Linked DNA regions of Homo sapiens. The protein of the gene in region 5 purifies or fractionates together with the protein of the main gene of each other region. This does not show direct contact. Each region holds a gene or a part of one and is shown on either strand. Other genes may lie near its edges. The genes, in order: SPIN1, ITGA4, CACNA2D2, SUSD1, DEFB107A and LEPR.

Evidence for each region.
Region 1: the proteins of DEFB107A (region 5) and SPIN1 purify together in Homo sapiens (affinity purification with mass spectrometry, with the first as the bait; one large-scale study listed by BioGRID). This does not show direct contact.
Region 2: the proteins of DEFB107A (region 5) and ITGA4 purify together in Homo sapiens (affinity purification with mass spectrometry, with the first as the bait; one large-scale study listed by BioGRID). This does not show direct contact.
Region 3: the proteins of DEFB107A (region 5) and CACNA2D2 purify together in Homo sapiens (affinity purification with mass spectrometry, with the first as the bait; one large-scale study listed by BioGRID). This does not show direct contact.
Region 4: the proteins of DEFB107A (region 5) and SUSD1 purify together in Homo sapiens (affinity purification with mass spectrometry, with the first as the bait; one large-scale study listed by BioGRID). This does not show direct contact.
Region 6: the proteins of DEFB107A (region 5) and LEPR purify together in Homo sapiens (affinity purification with mass spectrometry, with the first as the bait; one large-scale study listed by BioGRID). This does not show direct contact.

The regions. Positions count from the first base shown.
Region 1 is NC_000009.12:88,394,944-88,398,443, forward strand, and holds part of SPIN1 (spindlin-1), read left to right. Parts: intron 1-3,500. UniProt on the Homo sapiens protein: Chromatin reader that specifically recognizes and binds histone H3 both trimethylated at 'Lys-4' and 'Lys-9' (H3K4me3K9me3) and is involved in piRNA-mediated retrotransposon silencing during spermatogenesis.
Region 2 is NC_000002.12:181,474,386-181,477,885, forward strand, and holds part of ITGA4 (integrin alpha-4 isoform 1 preproprotein), read left to right. Parts: intron 1-574; coding exon 575-681; intron 682-773; coding exon 774-903; intron 904-1,434; coding exon of another isoform or gene 1,435-1,466; exon of another isoform or gene 1,467-1,835; intron 1,836-3,500. UniProt on the Homo sapiens protein: Integrins alpha-4/beta-1 (VLA-4) and alpha-4/beta-7 are receptors for fibronectin. They recognize one or more domains within the alternatively spliced CS-1 and CS-5 regions of fibronectin. They are also receptors for VCAM1.
Region 3 is NC_000003.12:50,497,135-50,500,634, forward strand, and holds part of CACNA2D2 (voltage-dependent calcium channel subunit alpha-2/delta-2 isoform b precursor), read right to left. Parts: intron 1-3,500. UniProt on the Homo sapiens protein: The alpha-2/delta subunit of voltage-dependent calcium channels regulates calcium current density and activation/inactivation kinetics of the calcium channel.
Region 4 is NC_000009.12:112,137,298-112,140,797, forward strand, and holds part of SUSD1 (sushi domain-containing protein 1 isoform 2 precursor), read right to left. Parts: intron 1-3,500.
Region 5 is NC_000008.11:7,812,917-7,816,970, forward strand, and holds the start of DEFB107A (beta-defensin 107 precursor), read right to left. Parts: upstream 2,801-4,054; 5' UTR 2,713-2,800; coding exon 2,643-2,712; intron 1-2,642. UniProt on the Homo sapiens protein: Has antibacterial activity.
Region 6 is NC_000001.11:65,598,668-65,602,167, reverse strand, and holds part of LEPR (leptin receptor isoform 1 precursor), read right to left. Parts: coding exon 3,364-3,500; intron 777-3,363; coding exon 486-776; intron 326-485; coding exon 208-325; intron 1-207. UniProt on the Homo sapiens protein: Receptor for hormone LEP/leptin. On ligand binding, mediates LEP central and peripheral effects through the activation of different signaling pathways such as JAK2/STAT3 and MAPK cascade/FOS.

The DNA.
Region 1 (3,500 bases), on a different chromosome or scaffold from region 5:
GGACTACAGGTGCCCGCCACCACGCCCGGCTAATTTTTGTATTTTTAGTAGAGACGGGGTTTCACTATGTTAGCCAAGATGGTCTCGATCTCCTGACCTCGTGATCTGTCCGCCTCGGCCTGCCAAAGTGCTGGGATTACAGGCGTGAGCCACCGCGCCTGGCCTATTTAATGTATTTTTTAACATGTAGAACATTTATGTGAACATTTATGTAGTTAAAAAATCTGATCTGTGTTAAAAAGTTATGTTCACAGCTTCACTTTAATTCTGTTCCTCCACGAATTTCTCTCTTGCCCCAGTTGTTTTTGCTTTGTTTTTCTGATATTTCATTTTTGCAAATGTAAGCATATGTGTATATTTTTGTTTCCCTTTCCTACACAATAGGCAGCGTTCTATGCACACTGCTCTGCCGTTCTATGCACACTGCTCCCTTTTACTTAATTTATTCTGGAGAGCGCTTCATTGAAGTGCGTGCTTGCAACTCATCTCCTAATGATGAACATTTGGGTTGTTTATATTCTCTTGGCTGTTATAAATATTGCGGCAATGAATAACCTTGTGGGTATATTGTTTTTTATTTGTGCAGATACAGCTTTAAGATAGATGTGGGGTGAAAGGTAAACACATTTGTAGTTTTGTTAGTGTCAAAATGTTACATTTTCTTTTTAAAACTTTTTAATTTTTTGTAGAGATGAGGTCTCACAGTGTTGCCCAGGATGATCTTGAACTCCTGACCCCAAGCAGTTCTTTTACCTGGGCTTCCCAAAAAACTTGGGATTACAGGCGTCAGGCATCAATACAGCCTAAAAAAATTACATTTTCAGGCTCAGTGTGATGGCTCACACCTGTAATCCCAGCACTTTGGGAGGCTGAGGTGGGCCGATCATGAGGTCAGGAGTTCAAGAACAGCCTGACCAACGTGGTGAAACCCCATCTCTGCTAAAAATACAAAAATTAGCCTGGCGTGGTGGCGCGTGCCTGTAATCCCAGCTACTCGGGAGGCTGAGGCAAGAGAATCACTTGAACCTGGGAGGCAGAGACTGCAGTGAGCTGAGATTGCGCCACTGCACTCCAGCCTGGGTGACAGAGGGAGACTCCGTCTCAAAAACAACAGCAACAACAACAAAAAAACCCGTCTCTACTAAGAATACAAAAATTGGCCAGGCATGGTGGCCTGCGCCTGTAATCCCAGCTACTCCTCATGAGAGTCACTTGAACTTGGGAGGTGGAGGTTGCAGTGAGCTGAGATCGCGCCATTGCACTTCAGCCTGGGTGACAGAGTGAGACTCCATCTCAAAAAAAAAAAAATTACATTTTTAAAAGGCAGATCTGACCATGTCAGCTTTTTACTTAAAACTCTAAATGGTGGCCAGGTGGGTGCGGTGGCTCACACCTGTACTGTACTCCCAGCACTTTGGGAGGCTGAGGTGGGCGGATTACCTGAAGCTGGGAGTTTGAGGCCAGCCTGGCCAACATGGTGAAACCCCGTCTCTACTAAAAATACAAAAATTAGCCAGGTGTGGTGGCGCATGCCTGTAATCCCAGCTACTCAGGAGGCTGAGGCAGGAGAATTGCTTGAACCTGGGAGGCGGAGGCTGCAGTGAGCTGAGATCACACCCCTGCACTCCAGACTGGGCAACAGAGTGAGACTCCGTCTCAGAAAACAAAACAGAAAAACTCTAAATGGCTTTCCAGTGCCTTAAGGACAAAAGTTTATAATGTAGCCTCAAGGGTACACATATAGTTGGTGTACATATAGCTTTACATCCCTTAACAATGGGATACATTCAGAGAACCTCGTTGTGTACCTCATAGAGTATACTTACACAAACCTATATGGGACAACCTACTAGGCACCTAGGCTATGTAATATGGCTTAATGCTCCTAGGCTACAAACCTGTACAGCATATGACTGAACTGAATACTGTAGACTATTGGAACACAGTGCTGTGTAGGTATTTATTTATCTAAACATATCTAAGGACAGAGAAAGTACAGTAGAAATGTGGTATAAAAGAGAAATGGCATGCCTGTGTAGGGCACTGAACCATGAATGGAGCTGTCAGGACTGGAAGTTGCTCTGGGTTGAGTCTGTGAGTGAGTGGTGAGTGAATGTGAAGGCCTAGAACATTACTGTACACTACCGTAGACTGTATGTAAACACTACAGTTAGGCTACACTAAATTTATAAAAAGTTTCTTCAGTAATTTACCTTAGCTTACTGTAATTTTTTTAACTTAATAAGCTTTTTAACTTTTTTTTAAACTTTCTGTCTTTTTAAATAACACGTAGCTTAAAACAGCCTCATAATATGGATCCACTGTAGTATATGTGGTCTGTTGTGTTGACAGAAATGTCATTAGGTGGTGCATGACTAATTACTTTTGGGCCTCAGCCTCATCTTGTACTGTTTTTCCCCTTGCTTTCCTTTGCTCCAGTTGTGTGGGGCCTCCTTCATTCTCCTGTGCTCACCATATTCTCCACCAGGAATCTTGGCACTTGTTCTTTTCCTCTGCCTGGAATGCCTTTCTTTGTTAACAGTTATTCCTGGTCTTTAGAGTTTGGCTCAAGCATCACTTTTAATGAAATTTTCTGTGTGCGTGCTTGCACATTTTCATAAGATAAAGAGATTGGACTGTACTGATATTCATCACCGACTCCAACAAGCATCAGTTGTCTGAAGTGTTTTTTTTTTTTTCCCCAGTCTTGCTCTGTCTCCCAGGCTGGAGTGCAGTGGTGCGGTCTCAGCTCACTGCAGTCTCCACTTCCCAGGTTCTAGCAATTCTCACTCCTCAGTCTCCCAAGTAGCTGGGAGTACAGGTGCGTGCCACCATGCCTGGCTAATTTTTTTGTATTTTTAGTAGAGACAGGGTTTCACCTTGTTGGCCAGACTGGTCGCCATCTCCTGACCTCAAGTGATCTGCCCTCCTCTGCCTCCCAAAGTGCTGAGATTACAGGTGTGAGCCACCGTGCCCAGCCTGAAGTTGTTTTTTTGAGACGAGGTCTCACTCCAGTTGCCTAGGCTGTAGTGCAGTGGCACAGTTTTGGCTCATTGCAGCCTCGACCTTCCCGGACTCAGGTGATCTTCCCATCTCAGCCTCCCGCGTAGCTGAGACTACAGGCATGTGCCACCATGCCTGGCTAGTTTATTTTTGTATTTTTAGTAGAGACGGGATTTTGCCTTGTTGCCCAGGCTGGTCTCGAGCTCCTGAACTCAAGCAGTGTACCTGCCTCAGCCTCCCAAAGTGCTGCCTCAGCCTCCCACCTGTGCCACTGCACTACAGGCATGAGTCACCGTGCCTGGCTGTCTGAAGTTCTTGAATTTTTTTGACTTTTCTGCAGTCAAGTCCTCTTGGTGCTTATCAGAATTACAATGTTATATTAGTTTATGTGATTTAATTAATTTTAGTTTTCCCACAAAGGCTGAGTTTCATGAAAGCAGAACCATTCCTGTTTTTGCCTGTAATTACTTTTCTGGTATCTAGCTCAGTGTCTGAAT
Region 2 (3,500 bases), on a different chromosome or scaffold from region 5:
GAGTCATATTCCAATAAATGTAAACATAGGGCAGTTTCTTATAAACGCAAGGCATTATTGGTATGCTAATTGTATGTTCCACTTTCTGCATGCTTAATCATCACCTTCCAGCTCCAATAAATTGTACCTTAATTGCTGAGGATGTATTATAGTCTTTCTATTCTTAATATCTCAGTAGAAGAAACATTTTTAAAAGTGCTCTGATAATATTGCTTACGTTGTTAGATAAATGGCTAATTCTTTTCCAAACGTTAGACACAGCAGTTATAGTTGCACAACCTGGTATTAGCTTTAAGTGGTTTTCCCCACTCCTAGTCCTGTTAGCTATCTCTTATATGATTGAGTCTATCTTTTTATGGTGCTACCAGTCAGAGGTCATTTCTACAACCAAAGTCACCTTGTATTAGAGAATAATTAGTTGGCACAGAGTAATTCACATTTATCCTCACATTGTGCACTGAATATAAGATAGAGAAGTAGTTAACAGAAAAATACTGGGGATGAGTGCACAGTTTTCTCTTCTTTTGTAGAATGTTTTCAATACAACTGATAAAATTATTTTCACATGCTATAGGTAGCCCTAATGGAGAACCTTGTGGAAAGACTTGTTTGGAAGAGAGAGACAATCAGTGGTTGGGGGTCACACTTTCCAGACAGCCAGGAGAAAATGGATCCATCGTGGTAGGTATTGGAACTGGTCCACAGATCCATCGTGAAATCAGCTATCCTGGGTGCAGCTTTCACATCATTTGGTCTACTTTTATTTTATTCAGACTTGTGGGCATAGATGGAAAAATATATTTTACATAAAGAATGAAAATAAGCTCCCCACTGGTGGTTGCTATGGAGTGCCCCCTGATTTACGAACAGAACTGAGTAAAAGAATAGCTCCGTGTTATCAAGGTAAGGCATGATTTTGATACGAATTAGATAAAGATAAGTAAGTGAATACCTTTTAGTGTTTTAAATTTATGTTCAAGTTTAGATGTTCAGAGGAGAGGGAGATCTTCTAAGTAATTATGTTCTTTTTAACTACTCAATTTCTTTCTTTACCCAATTGCAATAGCATTATTTTTCATAAATGCACTTTGTGCTATAAAAATTCTACAATTTGAATAACTCTGAAATCTAGCTCTTTAACTACCCACTTTTGCATCAAATTTACTTTCAATTTGGTATAGGTGAGACTAGTACCCAGCAAATATAGGACATTTAAATTGTGAAATTATATTGGAAGTCTGATTAAAAAGAAAGACTTTAGGTTTCCTTTTTTACCTTTAGCTTCCAGGAGTAATTGGGAAGAATAATCAGTGTAAGCAAATCTTTCATTCGCACTCACTATCTCTTTTTCTAATTTACATGTTTTCCTTCAAGCAGCAAGAGATTCGTGTCTTGAGTTTGAAACATTTTTCTCATGGTAACTCTATGCTATAGGTAGCATCAGCAAGTACAGAGCTAGGACATAACAGAAGTGAGCAGAATTGGGGTGAATGTCAACAGAGCATGTCAGAGGATATCTGCAGCAAAACTAAAATCCAACAATGCGTCTTTAGGAGCTAAGAAACATATGAATGCAAATTCATAATTTTCTAACCACCCTCACTCAAAAAAAATCCCTCAGCACGCAAAGAAAAATTTTATTGGTTGGCAAAACTTTGGCCAAGTATTTGAGTTCAATTATGGGTGCTAATAAGACTTTGGTCTTTCTTCCTTGGAATGTGATGTCACAGAGCAGCTTATATTACATATATTCCTATTTTGCCTTCGGATACCCAAAAGATAAAAAAGTGAATATTGATTCTCAGTTGCAATAAAACTCAGTCTTGATTTCTGTATGTTTGCTGTCTTCTTTTTCCTAATAGTTTTCGGTTTATCTTTAAAATATTTTCATAGTAGAGTTTTTAGTTTTTCTCGGATATACATAGCCACATACTACAAAAATCTCAAGATGCCATAAACCTAACCCATCTACAATTGTAAAATACAGGATCAGGTAAGATATATTTTTTTAAAGGGATGAAAACTCCTGACCAGAAATGGTCATTATAAATGACTTACCAATTTATTGAAGTTTTCTGCTTAGCAAAGCCAAAAGGAAGCTGTGGTTCCAATTCTTATTTTCATAGAAGTTTACTTATATCATTTTTTGGAAGAAGCAAAGCTTTGCCCCCTTAGAAAGTTCCAAAAGCATTCATTCATGGGACTTTGTAATAATAGACCTTTATGTCCATGCAGATCTTGATTCAGTCTATATTTCAGTTGGGCAAAATCTAAGAAAGGACACTCTCTTCAATTAATGGTGTTAGCAATAGCAAAGACATGGAATCAACCTAAATGCACATCAATGTTGGATTGGATAAAGAAACTGTGATACATACACACTGTAGAATACTACACAGGCATAAAAAATAACGAGATTATGTCCTTTGCAGCAACTTATATGGAGCTGGAGGCCAATAACCTAAGCGAACTAACACAGGAACAGAAAACCAAATACCACATGTTCTCACTTATAAGTGGGAGCTAAACATTGAGTACATATGGACACAAGGGACACAAAGTAGGCACAAACACTAGGGCCTACCTGGTGGTAGACGGTGGGAGCAGAGAGAGGATTGAAAAACTACCTATCAGGTACTATGCCTATTACCTGCATGGGGAAATAATCTGTACATCAAACCCCTACAACACGCAATTTATCTATGCAACAAACTTGCACATGAACCCTGAACCTGAAAGTTTTTTTTTAAATGCCTTTGGGAAAATTGGCTATCTGCGTGCAAAAGAATGAAATTGAACGCTTATCTTAGCAAATATACCAAAGTCAACTAAAATGGATTAAAGACTTAAACACGATACCTGAAACCATAAAATTTCTAGTGGAAAACATAAGAGAAAAGCTACTTGACATTAGTCTAGGCAATGAGTTTTTGGAAATTACACCAAAAGCTCAAACAACAAAAGCAAAAATAAACAAATGAGACTATATTAGAAAGCTCCTGCATAGCAAGGGAGATAATCAACAGAGTGAAGAGACAGTCTGCAGAATGGGAAATAATATTCGCATAAGTCCTATATATTTAAAATGTATAAGGATCTCACCAACTCGATAGCAAAAAACCAAATAACTGATTAAAAATTAGTCAAGAGACCAAATGGCTTTCTTTCCAAAGAAGGCATCAAAATGGCCAATAAGTAGATGAAAAGGTGCTTAACATCACCAATCATCAAGGAAATGCAAATTACAAACCACTATGAAATATCACTTCACACCTATTAGAATTGTCATTATCAAAAAGGCAAGAGATAACAAGTGTTGGCGAAGGTGTGAAGAAAAGGGAACCCTTGCACACTGTTGGCTGGAATGTAAATTGGTACAGCCATTATAGAAAACAGTAGAGAAGTTACTCAAATTAAAAATAAAACTACCATATGGTCCAGCAATCCCTCTTCTGGGTATATATCCAAAGGAAATGAAATCAGTACCACATAAAGAGATC
Region 3 (3,500 bases), on a different chromosome or scaffold from region 5:
GCACCCTCACACTGGAAGAGACAAGGCCCAGCGGCCACAGCTAAAGCAGGGCGTGGAGAGGAGCAGGAAGACCCCAGATCTGTCTTCTTAGGGCATTGGAATGTCAGAGTTGGAAGGATCCTGGAAGAAAGGAAACTGAGGCCCAGGGGGAGGAGGGGTTTTGTCCAAGGTCACCAAGCAAGCTACCCAACTGAGAAGATTAGGCTGGGCTTGCCCTTGACAGAGGCCTCCTCACCTAAGATGGGGGCTTTCAGAACTCCTTTGTGAATATTCTCCCCACCTAATCCCAGCTAGACAGTCTCCTGGTTTGTGAGGCTCTCCCCTCACCAGGCTCAGTCACGGGTAACAGTGATGGCTGGGGACCCAGCAGGTCCAGACCAGATGCAGAAGGAAAAGCACTGTGAGGGCCCAGGTGAGAGGAGCGGGACCAGGACCGGGGACACCAAGCCAACAGCCTGAGTCTCACAGTGGCAGGGCAGGGCTTGGCTGAGTCTGCCCCTTAGGTCCTGACCTTATGTAGATTTGAATGACAGAATCTTGACTCCTTTAGGGAGGCCCCAAGAGACCCCTGTGGGGACCTGCAAGCCAGCAGGGCCATCTCAATCTCTGTGGTCACCTGCACTGGCCCCCCTTCTGCCCTTAGCCACAGGCAGCTCTGGAAGCTCTTCAGGTTCCACAGGACAAGAGAAGAAGGGAAGCAAAAAAAAGCAAAAACCACACACACACTTCCCTTGGGGAATACGAATATTGATTCTGTAGCTTCTTGTTTAGACAGTAGGCACCAGAAGAAGAAGAAAAGAAAAAAAAACCTGACATGAAGAGAATCTTCCCAGTTGGCTGGAGGGCTGTAGCCAGCAATGGGAAAGCCCCTCATGTCCTCCCCAGCATGTCCTCCCCAGGCCTGAGGCCCACAGCCCAGTCACTTAAAGACACAAGGCACCAGGTCTGGAGGCAAATCTCCGCACGGGAGTGGGGTAGGTGGCTGGAAGGGGGAAGAGAGAGAAAGACCACTCCTATCTTACAGGCAACATCGCCCTGCCAGACAGAGCTCAGCCCACCTGCCTTGACTCCCAAACCTCCAGCTGCCCCTTGGAGAGTTCCCTAGCAACAAGCCCTTGAACGCTGGTTCCCAAACCCCCCAAGTCCCACCCATCCGGATGGCATGAGGCTCCCCCAGCATCTATAAGATCCTAGCCCTGTGAAGTCCCCTCAGACCTGGCAAAACTGCCAAGGGACTAAAGGAGCCAGCCTCAGGTTTCCATGAACAACCCCCAGCCCCACCCCCACCTCCATGACCTTTCTCTCCGGAATCAGACTGGAATCTGGAGAAGGAAATGGCATCTCATCTCCAGATGAAGCCCCTCCTCTCCTCCACCCCTCCACACAGAGCAGGCCTGGCCCATAACTCAAAGCTGGGGGAAGGAAAGCTCTGGGCTGGGGGTGCTCCATGATGGCCTGTGTATACGTGGGAGGTAGATGGAGGTCAGCACTGGGGCTATAAGCACTGGGGCTGGCAAGGCAGCTTCATGCCAAGGAAGGCCCCTCAGGGTTGCCTGAGACCCAGAGGAGGAAAGAGAGACAGACAGGGCAAAGTTACAGCTGGAAGTCCCAGGCCCAGCTCTCATATCCTAGGCCTCTTCATTTTCTTCCCAGAGATTCAGGCTTCAAGCCCCCCTCCACTTCCTGGGCCCACTGCCCAGATGTCCCCAGCCCTCTGGCTGGGCAGCCAAGTGTCTGACAGATCTATCCTTTCCCCTGCCCTGCCTCTCATGGTTGTGGGCTTTAAGCAGGTCCCTTCATTTTTCTGAGGTCAGTCTCCCCATCTGGAGGATGGACATGACCACGGGCTCTGAGGTCAAGGCACTAATGTGGGTGAGGGGTCTGGCCTGGGCTCAGTAAGGGAGATCACCATTAGCCTGGAGACGTCCCCCACCACAGTCAAGCTGTGTTGCAGGGAGTGAGGGAGGGAGGTGGCCCAATGTCTTCCTCAAGGAGGTAGAATCTGATGTGGGTGGGCACAGCCTGAGAGAGTGGCACAGCCCAGAGCTGGGATGGGAAGGCCTCTGGAAGGTTCGGGTGTGAGACCTTGAAGGAGGGGATCTAAACCTGAGAAAAGAGCACAGTCATGGCAGGGCAGCATGAGCAAAGTAGAGAGACAGGCGGCCACCTAGCCCGTGGGAGCCCTGGAGACTGGTGGGTCTCGCAGTAAGACTGGCTACCGCCCGGCTGCAACATCTGGGCTTAATGCTAATGTTAACAGTGGCAGCCATGGCACCTGACGGAGCCCTCCCTGCCCACTAGAGGCGGCATCCTCTCCCGTTAATTCTCACCACCAGCCTCTTAAGCAGATTCTATCATTTCAATTGTGGAAACTAAGGCAAGGTCATCCCAATGGAGCCTGCAAAGTCTACACCTGACACCCAGCATGTCCCCAAACTACATCCTCCCAGGAGCTGGCAGTGTCCACCCATACACATCTGAGATGCCAGGAGCTGGCAGTGCCCACCTGCACACAGGCAGGAGGAGAAGGGGATACTTTCTGCAGAAGTCCACTTAGAGGCCAGCTTTACTCTGGAGTCAGTCTCTCCATGGGGACATGAGTGTGACAAAGAATCTGGAGTGAGATTCACCTGCAGACTACGAGGGGACTCATCCTAAAATGAGTTTCCTCCTTTCTCAGGGGTTAACCTGGCACAGCTGACCAAAAGGAGGTGCCTGATAAAGATGGAGTCCAGGGGAACAGCAGCCAAGGGTCCCCCCAAAGTCCTCCACACCAGGAGGGCTGTGAGCACCTGGCAGCTCTGCATCTCGGTGACAGCAGCAGCGGCTGGGAAGCCTCATCCCTCCCTCCTGCAAAAGCTGAGGCAGGTTTTTGGGAAGATGGGGGACCCAGATGAGTGATGCTGCCTCCCTCCAACAGGGAGAGCCACAGGGAGATGGAGACAGGGGCTGGAAGGCCCAGACAGACACACGTCACCCACCATTAACCGTAGCTACACTGACGCATGCCCTGTTGTAGGCACTGCTCCCCATGTGTCCACTCAGGAGAGGAGCACGTACTCTGGTTGTCATTAATCTGCTGGTGGTCCAAACCCCTCAGGCCCCTCACTGCTTCTGCCCACCCTCAGAGGAAGGGAGACGCTGGCCAACACCATCGCTGGAGCAGAGCTGGGCTAAGAGGGTGCAGTCAGGTGGGCCAGCTCAGCCGGGTGCTCCACCCAGCACTCAGCCAGGACTCCACAGAGGAGGGGACAGAGAAACCTGGGGGCACTGGAGAACAGGGCACAGAGGCCCAGCAGAGAGGACAAAAGAGGCGGGCAGGGAAGGATAGGTACAGCTCGATGAAAGACCTGAAGAAGGGGGACAGGGGAAGAGGGAGGGAAAGACACAAGGGGAGGCAAAGCAGTGAGGGCTGCCCCTCAGCCGGCGGTGGTGGCCTGATGCTGGGGAGGGCATAACTGGAAAAAGGAGGCAGGTGAAAGGTGTGCTCGGACTCAGGT
Region 4 (3,500 bases), on a different chromosome or scaffold from region 5:
AGCGGGCAGAGGGAGCAGTTATTAGAGAAGGAAAAAAGAAGCGAAGATCTTTTAAATAACAGTTCTTTGGGAAAATGCAGCAAGCACTCTCCTCTAAATTAATTTTCTACATTCTCAGTCTAATAATCCAGATGATGGCTAATTTTCAAGGCAATCTAAATGGTTTTATATGGGGTTTCCTATGTAAATCCTTAGAGCGTTCTTTGATAGGCACTATGGCACATTTTAATCTAAGTTCTGCATTTTAGTTGATCCATTGAAAGATCATCTTAGAACTAAAATGTTATCTTTAGAAATTCTTAACCCCTGAGGATGATAATTAATGATCAAAATGCGTGTAGAGCCTACACAGCAAGTCAGAATATCAAAATGATTAACTTAGCCATGCACATCACTGGGGTTTCTTAATTATGCAATAAATTCAATGAAAATTGTGAGGGTTTCTCTTTTCTCCAAAATGAAAACAGGTTTCTTTGTCTGATATGTGAAAAATTCCATCATGCTCACTTTGGCAGCATGTATACTAAAATTGGAACGATACAGAGACTAGCATGATCCCTGTGCAAGTATGACATGCAAATGCATTAAGCATTCCATTAAAAAAATTTCTTTCAATACAGAAAGTATATAAAATATAAAAATTGGCTGGGTGCGGTGGCTCATGCCTGTAATCCCAGAACTTTGGGAGGCCAAGGTGGGCGGATCACCTGAGGTCAGGAGTTTGAGACCAGCCTGGCCAACATGGCGAAACCCCATCTCTACTAAAAATACAAAAAATTAGCTGGGCATGGTGGCAGACACCTGTAATCCCAGCTACGTGGGAGGCTGATGCAGGGAGAATGGCTTGAACCCAGGAGGCAGAGGTTGCAGTGAGCTAGATTGTGCCACTGCACTCCAGCCTGGGCAACACAGTGAGACTCCATCTCAAAAAAAAAATGTGTATATATATATATATATATGTGTATATACATATATATATATATGAAGTCCAGGATCCCAAACCCTCCCATTGGAAACTATCACCATTAACATTTTGATGTATGGCATTCTAAACATTTTTCTAAGCTTATCTGTATATAGGAACTTTTTCAAAATTAAGATTATTATTCATAGAATTTGTAACTCTGAAACATACTATTAGTACTTATCTATGTCAATAAATATTCTTTTTTTTTTTTTGAGACGGAGTCTTGCTGTGTCACCCAGGTTGGAGTGCAGTGGCACAATCTCAGCTCACAGCAACCTCCACCTCCCAATTCTCCTGCCTCAGACTCCTGAGTAGCTGGGATTACAGGTGCACGCCACCACGCCCAGGTAATTTGTTGTATTTTTAGTAGAGATAGGGTTTCACCATGCTGGCTAGGCTGGTCTCGAACTCCTGACCTCGTGATCAGCCTGCCTTGGCCTCCCAAAGTGCTGAGATTACAGGTGTGAGCCACTGTGCCTGGCCTGCAATAAATATTCTTTTTTAAATATTGTTTTTCTAACATAATTTTATTGGATACATAATATTCCATTTTAAGGGATTGATTCACTTAACCAATCTCTTGTTGTTAGACATTTGAGATTGTTTCTAATATTTCACTACAATAAATAGTTATAAACAAATATAACCACAGCAAATTAGAAGGCTTTACACTTCTTTGCATGCACAAATAAATTGGAAAATCTGGATGAAGTAAATGATTTTCTAGAAATACATAATTTACCAAAATTGATCTTAAGAGGGAAAGAAAAAGAATGGACATGATTAGATATACCAGCAAGTATAGGAAGAATTTAAAAGTAGTCCAAATAGTCCAAGGGCTACCTCTCCAATAGTGCCACATCCAGATGGTTTTATAGGTGAAATCTCCCAAATCTTTAAAAATTCTATTTGTAGTATTCCAGAAATAGAGAAAGAAGGAAATTTTTACATTCTTTTTTTTAAAATTCAGAATAACATTAATACCGAACTGAACAAAGATGGCACAGGAAAAGAAAATAGAGCAATTTCACTTATGAATATCAATGCAAGATTTATAAGTAAAATTTAGCAAATATAATCCAAATGAAAGGAATAAAACACCAAAAACCCAGATTAATTCATTCCAGCAATTAGTACTGATCATTATCAGGAAATCTAACAATATAACCCACACATTATTATTATTATTTTTTCTTTATGAGATAGGATCTTGCTCTGTCACCCAGGCTGGAGGGCAGGGTGTGATCATGGCTCACTGCAGCCTCAACCTCACAGGCTCAAGTGGTCCTCCCACCTCAGCCTCCCAAGTAGCTGGGACTATAGGCATGCACCACCACTCCCAGGCTGGTCTTGAACTCCTGGGCTCAAGCTATCTGCCTGCCTGGGCCTCCCAGAGTGCTGGAATTACAGACATGAGCCACTGCATCTGGCCACATCGTTATTTAAAAGAAGAAAAAAAATATATAATCACCTGCCTAAAAGACATGATAAAAATAACTTATTTCCAATTAAAAAAAAAAGAAATTCCTAAACAGTGGGAATAGATTGATGTTTCCTTTAGATTATGGACATATAGCCAAAAACTAGAAAAATGGTAATTAAAAAAATTTTTTTTCACTTTTCAGATGGAAACAGGCACATAAAATGATAATATTTGTAGACAGAGAAACAGAAAACCAGGTCAAGTGTGGTGGCTCATGCCTGGAATCCCAGCACTGTGGGAGGCAGAGACAGGCAGATCACTTGAACCCAGGAGTTCAAGACCAGCCTGGGCAACATGGCGAAACCCCATCTCTATAAAAAATACAAAAATTGGGGCCGGGCGCGGTGGCTCACGCCTGTAATCCCAGCACTTTGGGAGGCCGAGGCGGGTGGATCATGAGGTCAGGAGATCGAGACCATCCTGGCTAACAAGGTGAAACCCCGTCTCTACCAAAAATACAAAAAATTAGCCGGGCGCGGTGGCGGGCGCCTGTAGTCCCAGCTACTGGGGAGGCTGAGGCAGGAGAATGGCGTGAACCCGGGAAGCGGAGCTTGCCGTGAGCCGAGATTGCGCCACTGCAGTCCGCAGTCCGGCCTGGGCGACAGAGCGAGACTCCGTCTCCAAAAAAAAAAAAAATACAAAAATTGTCCAGGCATGGTAGTTCGTGCCTGTAGTCCAGTTACTCAGGAGGCTGAGGTGGGAGGATGGCTTGAGCCCAGGAGCACCAGTGCACTCGAGTCTGGGTGGCAGAGCAAGACTCTGTCTCAAAAAAAAAAAGAAAAAAGAAAAGAAAAGAAAGGAAAAAGGAAAAGGAAAAAGAAACAGAAAGCCAAAATTTTTAAAAAACTAACCAAAAGCCAGTGTCACCATAAAAGCAGAAGCAGCAAAACAAAGTGGCTGAAAATAATTCTGAAACTAGAATTCCTGGGTTCAAGTTCAGCTCTGTCTCTAGTTGTGTGACCTTAAACAAATTACAGTCATGCATCATTTAACAATCTGCATACATTTTGAGAAATGCATCATTAGGCAATTCCTTCATTGTGTGAAGTC
Region 5 (4,054 bases):
ACACACACGCACACACATACACACACACACACACACATATATATATATATACATGTATAGGGTGTTCAATACTGAATCAGGGCAGAGAACAAAAAAATAAGTAGAAGAACAAATGACCAACAATGGTAAACTCTAACATAGCATAGAGTATGTGCCTGCCACTGCTCAAGCAGTTATACAGAGAGATTGTTAAACTGTCCCAAAGCAGTCATTTTTACCTTCAGACTTTTAGTCATAGAACCTCTGGGTTTAGCTGGACACATGAATACTTAGCTATTCACATCAGCTCCTAGCTTCCTATTTCTATATGTCCACATGAACAAATTTGGAAAAATGAAAAAGGAGTGGAATGATGTGAGCTGCTTCTATGTAATCTTAATCAGGTTCTATACTTTCTAACCCTGCCTGTTAGAATATCCTTGGAACCAAATAAAATGGTCAACTGTTTAGGATGGCAGGGTTGACCTTCAGCCCAAATCACAACATAACTTGGTGAAAAAGAACCCTCTACCCGCACCTAGTCAACTTAGCTATTTTTGGACTTTTACATGAAAGAGAAATAAGGTTTTGTCTTTCTTCAGTCATTCTATCATTAAGATTCTTTATTATAACAAGTTAGTTTCTAATTAATATAACAAGTTTATTCATCTTCAAAACAATGCTATTATTATTATCATTTATAGAATGGAAAGTAAAACACAGGGTGCATACAGCTTATAAAGATTAGCACTGAGATCCAAACTCATATAAGTTTGGCCTAATAACCTATGTTTATTACCTTTTATATTGATCATTAAATTCACTTCTAACTCTGAGATTCTATGTGATTATGGTGATGGTGGTGGTTCTAATTTGTGCCCAAACTATGCTTATTATTGTAATTCAAATACATCTGAGATGAGTTTTGTGGACAGGGAGCTATTAGGCATCCACATCTATAGACTGATCTGAATAAATTGGAGTACTGATTAAAGTGGATGGAGAAGACAATTTTAAATGAGTTTATCTATTCTGGAGCATTGTCTGACATCTGCAAAAAGATGCTGAGGGCAGAAAATCGGGAACTGATTTTACAACTGACACTTTCATGGAGTCACTGAAACTTTCATGGGGACATTGTTCCCTGGCTCTGTTCTTTAGTTCTAGTCTTGCCTATTTCCAAATGTGCAAAACAAATACTACTTCCCAGGAAGCCTTTCTGCATTTCCTAGTTAGAACCAAGTTTCCACATCTATGACTTCTCTTTATAATTTGCATCTTTTATGGCACTTGTGAAAACTGTTTCATATTAAAGTTATTTGTGAATTTTCCTGTCTCATTGATACTTACTTATACATGTTAAATGTATTGAAAGCTTATTTACCACTACAAGCAACCTATTTTCGAACAACACAGAAGGAATAGACTAATAACTTCAAGCAAATTAAGGTCAATGTCCATGCTTTATATTTTTACCTCTTCGTTTTACCTACCTTTATCATAGTGGACAGAACAATTTCTTACAAGTGGTTAGCACACATTCAATATCTATTGGTTTTCTAGGACTACTGAGGACAGAATGTGTAATAAAGGAATGTAGAAATTCAGGAGCCATGAAGGAACAGACAGGGGGCTTCATGATGCATGGAGAACCTCTAATAGGAAAAGCTTCACAACAGAAGGAACGAAGGATAGTTGAGGAGGTATGGACATAAACATTTCTTAGGAACAGAGTCGTGGTTGTATGAAGCAAAGAGAATCTCAAAGACGCAAAGACTTAAGAGAATAGTAAGCAAGATGTTAGTTTAGTGGTTTTAATGGCATAATTTCCAACCAGTGTGTGAAAGCCAAAAAGTCTAAAATAATGTATGGATAAGAGATTTGGACCGACGACTCAGACATGAAAAAAAATTAGCTGTCTAAGAATCTAGTAACATAACTTTAGTTTAATTTAGACTACAAAGGCTGTACTTCCCTAACTTAACAAATATGTTTGGCATTTCCTTGGATAATCTTTTCTTTCTTTTTTTTTTTTTTTTTCATTTTAAAGAAATCACTTTAGAATATGCTGGCCAGGCGCGGTGGCTCATGCCTGTAATCCCAGGGCTCTGGGAGGCCGAGGAGGGCGGATCACGAAGTCAGGACATCAAGACCATCCTGGCTAACACAGTGAAACCCCGTCTCTACTAAAAATACAAAAAAATTACCCAGGCGTGGTGGCGGGTGCGTGTAGTCCCAGCTACTCGGGAGGCTGAGGCAGGAGAATGGCATGAACCTGGGAGGCAGAGCTTGCAGTGAGCCGAGATCGCACCACTGCACTCCAGCCTGGGCGACAGCGCGAGACTCCGTCTCAAAAAAAAAAAAAAAAAAAAAAAAGAATATGCTGAACCTGCGTTGCAGATTACAAAGGAGGAAAGAGATCTAAAAGTACAAAGATGTCTGAATTCCTTGGCAGAGCTGTTAGGGAAGTTGACTAGAAACTATTATGGATGGAGATGGTCCCGGTCAATGTGGTCCCATTGTTTTGTGTCGGAGCTCAGGAAAAGATTTTCAGTGACTGGTTTGCCTTGGAACCTTCAACTTTGTAAAAGTTGAGCTTTCATCTCAAAAGACAGATCCTGAGCAGACTGTCATCTCTACTTCTAGAAGAATTTCCCTCTTACCTTGGAAAATTTGAGCAAGAAGAATGAGAGCAGCCAAAATAAAGACAAATATTTTCATGGCTCCAGGCATCAGTGGAGAGCTGATGAAGGAAGTGCAGTAGCTGGAATCAAGCTCTTTTATCAAGGGGCATTGATTAAAATATGTTCTACTGCCCTGAAGGGACTGGAAGTCATCCTCGGTTTGTAATGTTCATTGGGAACATACTATTTTCCATGCTCCACTGATTAATGTGTGGGCTGATGGATCAGATTTTAACTAAACCACATTTGTGGGAGACAAACGCAGAGAACCCTGCCTTTCTGCCTGGAATATTCTATTCTGTGTCTCTGCTTAGACTTCTCTCATTTTTCCTTCAAGTCTTATCTCAAGTATTACCATGTCTATAAGATATATAGCCACCACGCTTTTCCTAGTACATGATTTTACATAAAACCTATTCTTAAAATAATAATTAAAACAAACACACAAAAACCTTTAATTTTAAATTCAGGAGTACGTGTGCAGGTTTTTTTTTTTTTTTTTTTTGACAGGGTCTCGCTGTATTGCATGGAGTGCTGTTGCTTAAGGAGAAAAGGGTTAATCCATTGAAAATACATAAAAACCATTAACATGTTTTTATATTATTTGATTTAATTAAAGGGAGAAATAGACACTTCTATATTCATAGTAGAAAATTTTTACACCACTCTCTCAGCAACTGATAGAACACAGGGAAAAATTAGCAAAGTCATGCATGATCTGAACAATACCACCATTCCACTGACTGCATTGATATTTATAGAACACATCATAAGACAACTGCAAAATACACATTTTTTTCAAGTACATATGATACATTCATAAAAATGAACCATATGCTAGGCCATAAAACAAATATTGATGTGTTTAAGCACATTTAAATACTTCAGAGTGTATTTCTCACCACAAGGGGATTAAATTGGCAATCTATAAAATAAGCTATTTAGGATATTTTCAAATATGTGGAGATAAAGCAACATCATTCTAGATTGTGTTTGTATCAAAGAATAAATAATGAGAATAATTGGAAAGCATTTCTGTATATCGAATTTTGTGGAGCACAACAAAACAATGACTTCGAAAGAAATTTGTATCCAAATACTTATTGTAGAAAAGAAGAAATGTTTAAATCTATGACTTAAAATTATGCTCTAAGAACCTTAGAAAAGGGAACAATGTAAGCCCAAGTATGCAGAATAAGTGAAAAAGAAGTTATCACTACAGATCCAAGAAACATTAAACTAATATAAAAATGTTGTCAACAGGTATATGCCAAAACATTTCACAACTTACATAAAATAAAAGAATTCTCTCAAAAATTTAACTTACCAAAATTGGCACAAGAATTAGCAGAAAATATAAGTATTTCTGTATGTCTTAAAGAAAGTAAGTG
Region 6 (3,500 bases), on a different chromosome or scaffold from region 5:
ACAAATTACAATTTTTTAATCTCAGGTGTGAATATTTTTCAAGAATCACCAATTTATATAATCCCTCAAAAATTTCCTGATTCATTATATTATACTTTCCTCTTTCAGGAAGCAAATAATCTGTAAGACTACTGTTGTAATATTTCTAAAGAAAATTTTTATCTCACTGTGCCCACAGAAAAACAAAACAGCAAAAATAATACGTACCTATGATACCTCAATTGCAAAGTGCTTTCCGCAAGTGACTGGATTGTACTGGTTGACCATCTGCAAGTCATTTTAGTTAAGTACCCATCAGTTTCACATGAGATATTGATATTGACATCTATTTGAAACATATTAAAATATTAATATAAAGCAAAAACTCCAAAAAATTCAATGAAAAAAATTTTTTCTTACATCTTTAACAGGACTCTAATATAAGGAGGGTCCATAATGAAAATTCAAGTTGTGGAACAAAATGAACAAAACCTCTGTTTTCTTACCAATCACATATAATTCAGCATAGCGATGATGGCATTCATGTTCATTGCAGCAGTACACTGCATCATAGGTAAACTTTCCTCGAGGTTTGGTTTCATTCAGATTGAAAAAAGTAACTTTGCTAACATGATCACTCACAACATCATACTGGCTTTGAGGAATTTTCTCAGCTAAATTCATCCACCAAACAATCTCTTTTGAGGGAACAATCTTGTTTTCCTTCTTATAGATGCAGTGAAAAGAAACATTAGACCCAACACTTGTCAGAATTTTAGGTGGAAAGTATATGACATCTGTAATGAGGGAAGAAAGGATATCAGATGAAGACAAAACATTCTGTAAGTAATTTGTACCACATCGAAAAATATTCACAACACATTCCAGAGTTACACTGCCAAAAATAAAATGAGTGTAATTTAAAAACTGGATAATGCTGAAATTACCTGTTTGTGTACAGTTATCTAGTGTCCCGAGTGCTCTCATTCTAAAGTGAGTTGAGCTTCCATGAATGTCTTTACTATCTTCTAAACACAGAGGCTTATTCATCATAAAATATGTTTTAGCCAGTAATTGTCACTTGCTAACTGATAGGCAGGAAAGTGACTAAAACAAAATATAGCTTAATTCAACAATGACATATTTTCCAACAGACCCTGCTTTGGGAATCAGTGAAACTAGGACAAGTTCTTAAAGCAAATCACTATGAAGCCAAATCCTGAAGTAAAAATGATTGCCGCTATTGTCTTGTTTGGATACATAAAAATTTCAAGTAAGTAGGTAAAGATACGAGATATAAATTAAAAAATAGGAATGTCGTATGAATGATAATGCAGCAATATACAAAGCAGAGAAAATGGGAAATACTGGTTTGTACTATCATTTTGAGTTATTTAATGCCAATATCCTATGGATGAGGGTAAAGGGAAGCGATATTTTCCTAAAACATGATTTTTTTAATGCCTACACATGATTCTATACTATTTTTAAAGTCCTCTGTTGTTGTAAATTTCATTTGCCTATCATTTTCAAAGACATGCGAGATACAAGTAAATGATGGTTTACATAGGAAGAAATTATTTCCACCACAGTGCACTGCAAAAACGTCAGTACATTTCAGTTGTAAAGTTAAGGTAAACCATTTTCTGTTGATAGACTATGAAAATTTGTTTTCACACATATCTTGGGATTACCCTTAAAAACAGAAACAAAAATACTTTAATTGGTTTTTATTAAGTTTTCTTTATTCTGTAATAGCATGGTAAACGTCAATGTCTATATATTTACAATTCATACAAAACATTTGTGTTTTGTATGTCCATAATCAAATAGAAACAGGAAAAAACTTAGTAGCATAAAATTACTGCACAGGAGCCAGACCATTAGATTTATGAGCGTGACTGAGTATAATCCTAGCCGAGGTGGCACTCAAGCTTCACTTGTACATTACTTACTGTGGACAAGTACCTAGTACATTAACCTATCTTAACCTACCTTCAGTATGCGCCACAACCTCCTTACTCAACTGCCTCAAAAGTCTCAGAATAATTCTTATTTAAAAATAAAAAATATAATTGAGTTTTCATGGATTAAGCTGAAGTTTTTCATTTTAAAGATGACAAGAAAATTCAAAGCATTTCACTTTGAAATCAAATACATATAGTAAGGCTTAACTGAGAAATAAGATTAAAGTCATAGTATTTTTACATGATTAGATGCTAAAATATTAGCTTAAAATAAGAAAACTAAGTTAATAAAAACCTGACAATTTGTGAAATTTACACTGGATAAATTTATTGAAATTGATATGAGATATTGAATATTTAATTTGCAAAATTTTAATAATATAGATACACATTTTATCTGCATATGACATACTATGCAATTTTTAATTTGCAGAATAAGAAAACAATAATGGTTTTCTTCACATGACCAATGTTAATTATTTCATTTCATTATTTAATTTTATATGGATATTTCATATCCATGTAAAACATCCCTATTTTACAGATAAGGAAATTAAGGCATAGAAAGGTTAAGAAACTTTCCAAATAAGTGGTGGAGCCAGAACTCCTATAAACTTCTGTTGGACTCCGAAGTCAATGTCTTAAACTACTATTGCTACTTGCCTTTTGACGAATCAATGCTTTTAAAATAGTAAGCAATCAACAAGTAAACTTGTTAAATGGATTGATATTTGCATGGTACCTGTTATCTCTGTACAGGCCATAATCAATCTCAGTAAGTCTGAACAAGAAAAATTTTGCCCTTTTGACAGATCGGACAACCAGCCAAAGGACTATTGTCTTTCTATAGTCCCAACTTTGCATGCAACAGGTCTAGGACCATTCCAAGCCTCTGGAGCCTCTATGCAAAACTTTGCGCATCAGCTGCATGAAGAAGCTGTGAATGAACTGTAGATGTTCCGATGCTAAAAATAACCTTTAAAATATGAACATTGGCACTGAAAACTCTCAAAAGCAAGCATCTGGAGTAAAAATAATTCATTTATTATATAATATAAAGTAAAATGTTAATATTTGAATTTTATGTCAAATAAATATGCTTGGTTTTAAAATGTAAATTAAGGAATTATCAATACAAATGGCTTTCTGAGTTTGTTAATTTGGAGCTGTTATATTAATTTTTTCTTTTTAATAGGAAAAGTGATCCTACAATATACTGCAATAGAAACACACAAGCCTAGAGGCTCTGACAGAATTTTAATTCACAAATTGGCCTGTTCAAAGTTTAAACAAGGAAGTTGATACTGTGTTCCTCCTTTCATTTTAAGGCCTCAAAATGTAAGATGCTTATACTATACAAAGGCAAGTTCAGGAAATATATTTCCCTCCCAGTAGAAGTGGCTATTACATAACCTACCTTGTGTGGTAAAGACACGAGGAGTACTCCAGTCACTCCAGATTCCTGGGCCATCCAGTCTCTTGCCCCTCACCTGAACCTCATACGAAGACCCAGGAAGTATACTGTCTACTAGCAGGGATGTAGCTGAGACAATC